Linked DNA regions of Homo sapiens. The protein of the gene in region 1 purifies or fractionates together with the protein of each later gene. This does not show direct contact. Each region holds a gene or a part of one and is shown in the gene's direction. Other genes may lie near its edges. The genes, in order: MX2 and FXN.

What was found.
Region 2: the proteins of MX2 (region 1) and FXN fractionate together in Homo sapiens (co-fractionation; one large-scale study listed by BioGRID). This does not show direct contact.

The regions. Positions count from the first base shown.
Region 1 is NC_000021.9:41,392,729-41,396,550, forward strand, and holds part of MX2 (interferon-induced GTP-binding protein Mx2), read left to right. Parts: intron 1-2,858; coding exon 2,859-3,057; intron 3,058-3,822.
Region 2 is NC_000009.12:69,038,681-69,042,502, forward strand, and holds part of FXN (frataxin, mitochondrial isoform 1 preproprotein), read left to right. Parts: intron 1-3,822.

The DNA.
Region 1 (3,822 bases):
GAGCAGGGGGGAGCATCCTATTTTTATGAGTTGAATTATTCCCTTGCAGACTTGAGTTACGTGTATTTTACAATTCTTTTAAAAAGGAAATTGAGGCCGGGCATGTTGACTCATGCCTGCAATCCCAGCACTTTGGGGGGCCAAGGCGGGCGGATCACCTGAGGTCAGGAGTTCGAGACCACCCTGGCCAACACGGTGAAACCCCATCTCTACTAAAAATACAAAAAATTAGCCGGGTGTGGTGGCACAGGCCTGTAATCCCAGCTACTTGGGAGGCTGAGGCACGAGAATCGCTTGAACCTGAGACGAAGTTTGCAGTGAGCCGAGATTGCACCACTGCACTCCAGCCTGGTGACAGAGTGAGATTCTGTCTCAAAAAAGCAAAAAAAAAAAAAAAAAAAAAGAAAGAAAGAAAAGAAAAAAAAAAGAAAATTGAATGACTACACAATACTTCCAAAGGATGAGAATAGAGCAAATTTGATTATAATATAACAGTGGCTTAGAGAATATCAAGTTTCAAAAAGAACAGTGGGTCGATATTTTCAGGCCCTCACTAAGCTGGTTCCCCACCTGTCCATTGCTATGGATGTTATCTACTCCCTTGGCTTCAGCCGAGCTCCTGTGCCCTCTTAAGACAGAGACTGCTCCTGTCGAGGTCACCCACACCCTCTGCACTGAGGAGCACATGGTCACGTCTCTGTCCTTGCCTCTCCTTTCTCAGCAGCAGTCACCCCAGTTGCCCACTCCCTCCTTCCTGAACCTCCCTCCTTCCTGAAACTCCCTCCTTCCTCCACCATTCTCTCTCTCTCGGGTCGCTTCCGTCACTGGCCAGCTGGAAGTCACATTCTTAGACTCCTTGTCTCCATGCCTCTTCAATTCTCAGGCCTCTAAGTATGGAAAACTTGGTTCTGGGCTCTCCTTCTATCAACGCATCATCACATTAAGTGATCTTATCCGGCTGTGGTTTGTAATCCCATCTACATGCCAGTGACTCCCAAATCTGTATCTCTAACCCTGACCTTGCTTAACTGGACAACTCCGTTTGGCTGTCTGGCCAATGTCTCCAGTTAAACGTGACCAGAACAGAACTCTTGGTTTCGTACTCCATCCTGATTCACCTCCTCTCCAAGGCTTCCCCACCTCATTCACAGAACCCATCCGCCCACCCAGTTCTAAAGCCAAATCAAAGAGTCCCACTTGAGTCCTCCCTCCCCTTGCCTCCAAGTCTAATGTATCTGAAGTCCTGGTGACTCTGCCTCCAAAACGGGTGCCAAATCCATCCACTGCTCTCCATCCCCACTGTCACTGCCTAGACCAAGCCACCATGGTCTCCTGCCTGGTCTGCTCAAACATTCTCCTGCTGTTCGAGCACTCACCTTGCCCATGGCAGTGCCCTCTCCACTGGCCTCCAGACATGTCAATCGGGTCATGCCCCTCTCTGTTTACATTCTCTCCTGCTGCCATCTCACATGCATATAAACCCCGGACTCCTTTATCTAGAAAGCAGAGCCCCAGGTGACCTGGCCCTGCCTGCCTCTCTGATCTCAGTTCCACCGCTCTCTGCCTTGCTCATGACCCTCCAATACGGCTCTGCCATCCCTGCTCCCTCTCAACCAGGGTCTGGAGTGCTCCTTCTCCCTCCCCACTAGGCTGACTCCTCCCTTCCTTCAGATGTCAGTCCAAATGTTGCCTTCTGAGAGCGGACCTCCCTGTCCACCCAACTTGAGACTACATCACGCACCGCTGCCCACGGTCATTTGCCAGCACGTCACTTTATGTTAATTCTCTGCATAGCCCTTATCAATATCCATTCTTCTTTATTTCTCGTATATTACTAGATTAATTTATCTGGAAAGAGAGGTTCAAGAATAGTAGACCAGATAGCCAGACTTACCCACAAATTAAAACGAAGGACAAAATAGCGGAAGATAAGGCCAGGCACGGTGGCTCATGCCTGTAATCCCAACACTTTGGGAGGCTGAGGTGGGTGGATCATGAGGTCGGGAGTTTGAGACCAGCCTGGCCAACATGGTGAAACCTCATCTCTACTAAAAATACAAAAATTAGCTGGGCGTGGTAGCACATGCCTGTAGTCCCCGCTACTCAGGAGGCTGAGGCAGGAGAATCGCTTGAACCGGGGAGGCGGAGGTTGAAGTGAGCCACTGCACTCCAGCCTGGGCAACAGAGCGAGACTCCATCTCAAAAAAGAAAGAGAGAGAGAGAGAGAGAGAAAGGAAGGAAGGAAGCAAGGAAAGAAGGAAGGAAGGAAGGAAGGAAAGAAGGAAGAAAGAAAAGTGCTTTTCAACATACACAAACAAGAAATGCAGTGGCAATTTGACACTCAAGCAACATAAACAAAAAAGAGCACTTGGAATTCAAAGTTTTCAATCCAGTGCAAGCAGGAAGGAGTGGGGACAGAGGAGGGGGAGAGGAAAGTGGGAAGGAGGAGATCAGAGGAGGTGCCCACAAGAGGGAGCGGAGTGAGTCTGTTCAGGAGACACTAGAGAGGGACTCCCCTCAGTAGGGAACAAGGCATTTCTTGGAAACATGGTGCATGGAGCCAGTCCATTCTAACCATGCATGCTGCCTTAGTGCTGGGCACCCAGTAGGCATCCACGAAATATTTGTTAAGTCAACTATCCAGGACACTGAATGAACTGAGTGAGAGGGTGAGATAGCGAGCCAATAGAAATGCAAAGAAGAGGGGCAATGAGGGAATGAGGATGGAATGAGGCACTGGAGGATCAAGACTGCAGAAGACCTTGTTGGCCAAAAAAGGAGCCCATAGTCCAGTAGGAGTCAAACCTGTTTGAGGGGATCACTGACCTTTCCATTTCCCTTCTTTAACCATCTCACAGGTATCCTGACCAAACCAGATCTAATGGACAGGGGCACTGAGAAAAGCGTCATGAATGTGGTGCGGAACCTCACGTACCCCCTCAAGAAGGGCTACATGATTGTGAAGTGCCGGGGCCAGCAGGAGATCACAAACAGGCTGAGCTTGGCAGAGGCAACCAAGAAAGAAATTACATTCTTTCAAACACATCCATATTTCAGGTGAGACTCTTCAGGAAAGCTCTGGAATTAGACTCCATGAAAGCCAGCCCATCTGCAAGAGTTGGCCCAGATCATGACCAAAGTGTATGCACAAATTACACAAGGTAGTATAACCTAGCCTCACCTGATTTTTGTGCTAGATTTCTTGGCTTATTTAGACAAATTATTGTTTCTTAGATTCCAATGATGGTGCTGATTAAAAACTGGAATGTGTCATGACATAAAGCGTAGAACTCTTTGGTTTCCCAAAATGTTTTCACTTCCTTTCTGATTTGAGTCCTTATATTAAGAGATACATAAGGCAGGTGAAGTTTCTCCCATTTCCATGGATAAGAATAATGAGGTCAAACAAATAGTGAATGGGAACAGGACTGAACACAGAGCACCTAACTTCCAGAAACCCGTGTGTACCACCGTAAACGGCACACAGGAAAACCTGCTCGATGGAACTCTCCGTGTTTTTAGAGCCTCCAGTGCCCACAGTCATTTGCCAGAATATCACTTGTTTTTATTAAATAGAAACTTAATAATAACTGGCTTTATTAAATAGAAATTATCCTATAGAGACTCTGTAGTTTGTAGGACGCTGGGATTGTTCCCATTGAATGGAGCACTTTTCCCCTTCATTCTGGAACTTGTTGTTCCTGAATGATCCAGGAGCACAGAGGTCACTCCTGCTTGAAGGAGAGCTAATGGGAAAACTGAATTTGGGCCGAGTAGGTCTACGGCTTGCTGACTATGTGATCTTACAATATGGGCCACCTT
Region 2 (3,822 bases), on another chromosome or scaffold:
GGTGGTGGGTGCCTGTAGTCCCAGCTACTCGGGAGGCTGAGGCATGAGAATCACTTGAGCCCAGGAGGCAGAGGTTGCAGTGAGCCAAGATTTTGGGGGATTCTGTGACATACAAAAAAAATCAGTAATAAGATATCTTGCATACTCTTTTCGTACTCATATACTTCCAGCATATCTCAATTCACAATTTCTAAGTAAATGCTCTATCTGTATTTACTTTTATAAAATTCACAATTAAAAATGAAGGTTCACATAGTCAAGTTGTTCCAAACACACTTAAATGTCTCCTAGGCTGGGTGTGGTTGCTCACACCTGTAATCCCAGCACTTTGGGAGGCTGAGATGGGCGGATCACCTGAGGTCAGGAGTTTGAGACCAGCCTGGCCAACATGGTGAAACCCCGTCTCTACTAAAAATACAAAAATTAGCTGGATGTGGTGGCACTCACCTGTAATCCCAGCTACTCAGGAGGCTGAGGCAGGATAATTGCTTGAACCCGGGAGGTGGTGGAGGTTGCAGTGAGCCGAGATCGCACCACTGCCTTCCAACCTGGGCGACAGAGCGAGACTCCGTCTCAAAAAAAAAAAAAAGGCTCCTAATAACTTTATTACTTTATTATCACCTCAAATAATTAAAATTAAATGAAGTTGAAAATCCAGGTCCTCAGTCCCATTAGCCACATTTCTAGTGCTCAGTAGCCACGGGGGCTGGTGACCACCACATGGGACAGCATATTTAGTACCTGATCATTGGTTCTCAGATCTGGCTACTCAGCAGAACCAAGAATCCACAGAAACGGCTTTTAAAAGCACAGCCCCACAGCCCCCAGCCCCAGCCTTACCTACCTGGAGGCTGGGAAGGACTCTGATTCCACGAGGCAGCCTATGTTTTTTGATGGAGGGATGTGACAGGGGCTGCATCTTTAACGTTTCCTCTTAAATACTGGAGACAGCTTCGAGGAGGAGATAACTGGATGTGTCTTAGTCCATTTGATGGAGGGATGTGACGGGGCTGCGTCTTTAACGTTTCCTCTTAAATACCGGAGACAGCTTCGAGAAGGAGATAACTGGATGTTTCTTAGTCCATTTTCTGTTGCTTGTGACAGAATACCTGAAACTGGGCAATTTATATGGTAAAAAATTTTCTTCTTACTGCTCTGGAGGCTGAGAAGTCCAAAGTCAAGTCCCTTCTTGCTGGTGGGGACTTTGCAGAGTATTGAGGCGGCACCGGGCGTCATATGGTAAGGGGCTGAGTGTGCTACCTCAGGTGTCTTTTTCTTTTCTTATAAAGCCTAACTAGTTTCACTCCCATGATAACCCATTAATCTATGAATGGATTAATCCATTATTGAGGGAAGAACCTTCATGACCCAGTCACCGCTTAAAGGCCCCACCTCTCAATACTGCCACATCGGGAATTAAGTTTCAACATGAGTTTCGGAGGTGACAAACATTCAAACCATAGCATGCTGTCTCTTAAATGACTCAATAAGCTCCTGTGGCATCCACTTCTGCATGCCTTGGGCAGCTTTTAGACATCTGTCCATTTTCCTAGAGGGACAAGACCACCACCTGTGATCCTATGACCTTTTGGCTTTAGGCCTAACAAGCAGGTTATACCCTCACTCACTTTCAAATCATTTTTATTGTCTTGCAGACAATTTACACAAGTTTACACATAGAAAAGGATATGTAAATATTTATACGCTGCCGGGCGCGGTGGCTCACGCCTGTAATCCCAGCACTTTGGGAGGCCGAGGCAGGTGGATCACGAGTTCAGGAGATGGAGACCATCCTGGCTAATACGATGAAACCCCATCTCTACTAAAAATACAAAAAATTAGCCGGGCGTGGTGACGGGTGCCTGTAGTCCCCACTACTCGGGACGCTGAGGCAGGAGAATGGCGTGAACCCGGGAGGCAGAGCTTGCAGTGATCCGAGATCGTGCCACTGCACTCCAGCCTGGGTGACAGAGCGAGACTGCATCTCAAAGAAAAAAATAAATAAATAAATAAATATTTATACTGCTTATAAACTAATAATAAATGCTATGGTCTGCATGTTTGTGTCACCCCACCATTCATATGTTAAAACCTAATCACCAAAGTGATATTAGGAGGTGGGGCCCTTGGGAGGTGATGAGGTATGAGGGTGGAGCCCATATGATTGGGATTAGTGCCCTTCTAAAATAGCCCAACGGAGCCCAGTGACAAGGCATCATCTATGAACCAGGAAACTGGCCCTCACCAGACACCAAAGCTGTTGGTGCATTGATCTTGGATTTCCCACCCTCCAGGACTCTAAGAAACACATTTCTATTGTTTATAAGCCACCCAGTGGCTGGTATTTTGTTATAACATCCCAGACTAAGACAAATAACAAATACTTGTATCCCTGACACCAGGTTAAGAGATAGAATTTGTTTGTTCCTCTGGAGGCCCTTGTCTTCACCCCATCACTGCCCTGTCCTCCCTGGAGGAATCTGCCAGCCCGAATTCTGTTCATCGTACCCTCCTTTTCTTAGAGTTTGACCTCCTCTGTATCTCCCCCAATCCATGTATTGCTTATATACAAGGTATTCTGCTGTATCTGTTCTGCTATGGCTTGCCCCTTTTGTTCAACACTGTTTTTGTGCGTCATCTGCATTGATGCATGCAGTTGTCCTTTATTTGTTCTCACTGCTGGATAGTATCTGGTTGGGTAAATATATCACACTGTAAATCACACTATCCAGGTTCCTTTAGGTGACATTTGGTTGATTGCAGTGTTCTGTTGTTACGATGGTGCTGCTGTGACTGTTCTTGTGCATGGACAGAAGTTCCTTTCAGGTGAATTTCTCAGAATGGAATTGCTGGGCAAAGGGGCAGCCAATAATCAACTCATTTGATGCCAAAAGTGGTGGTGCCAGTTCATCCTCCCCTGCGAGGTATGGGTCCTGATTCACTCTTCAAGTGCTGTGGTTTGACAGGGCCGGGGGTGACAAGGGGACACCTGGGAAGGAAAGCTGGGCTCCCTGCTGGCCATCCAGGCCAGTCCTTACCAGGGGGTAGGCAATGATTGGGTCAAGTGGTTCCTGACCACTGGGCCTGAGACTTCAGGCCCAGAAACTATCTAATATTTCCTCAAATGCATCCCATGAGCAGGCACTGTGTGAGTGAGCACACACATCTGAAGCCTCAAGCTAGGCAAGCCTACCATGACTTGTGGTCCAAGGGCTCACGGGTGACCTGGAGTTAGAGGGAGACATGGCTGCCAGGTGGCTTTAGAAAGAACACTCATCATGGCCAGGTGCGGTGGCTTACGCCTGTAATCCCAGCACTTTGGGAGGCCAAGGTGGGTGGATCATGAGGTCAGGAGTGAGACCAGCCTGACCAACATGCTGAAACCTGTCTCTCCTAAAAACACAAAAATTAGCTGGGCATGGAGGTGCACGCCTGTAATCCCAGCTACTCAGGAGGCTGAGGCAGGAGAATCACTTGAACCCGGGAGGCGGAGGTTGCAATAAGCCTAGATTGTGCCACTGCATTCCAGCCTGGGCAACAGAGCAAGACTCCGTCTCAGAAAAAAAAAAAAAAAGGAAGAACACTCATCCTATGACCTTGACCTCCAAGCTTTGCCTCCCTCAAGCAGAACAGAATGGAGCCTCCCTTAGGCAGAGGCGGAAGTTTGCCTCTCACCTAGTTCTCCATTCTTTTGTTCAGAGCCTGAATACCCTCAGGCTCTGTACTTGGGGTATTTCTGTTCTCTTGTTTTATGCTCACGGTTGTGAGGTTTGTTGTGAGTACCACGATCCCTTCCTTCAGAGGAGTAAACTGAGGTTCCAA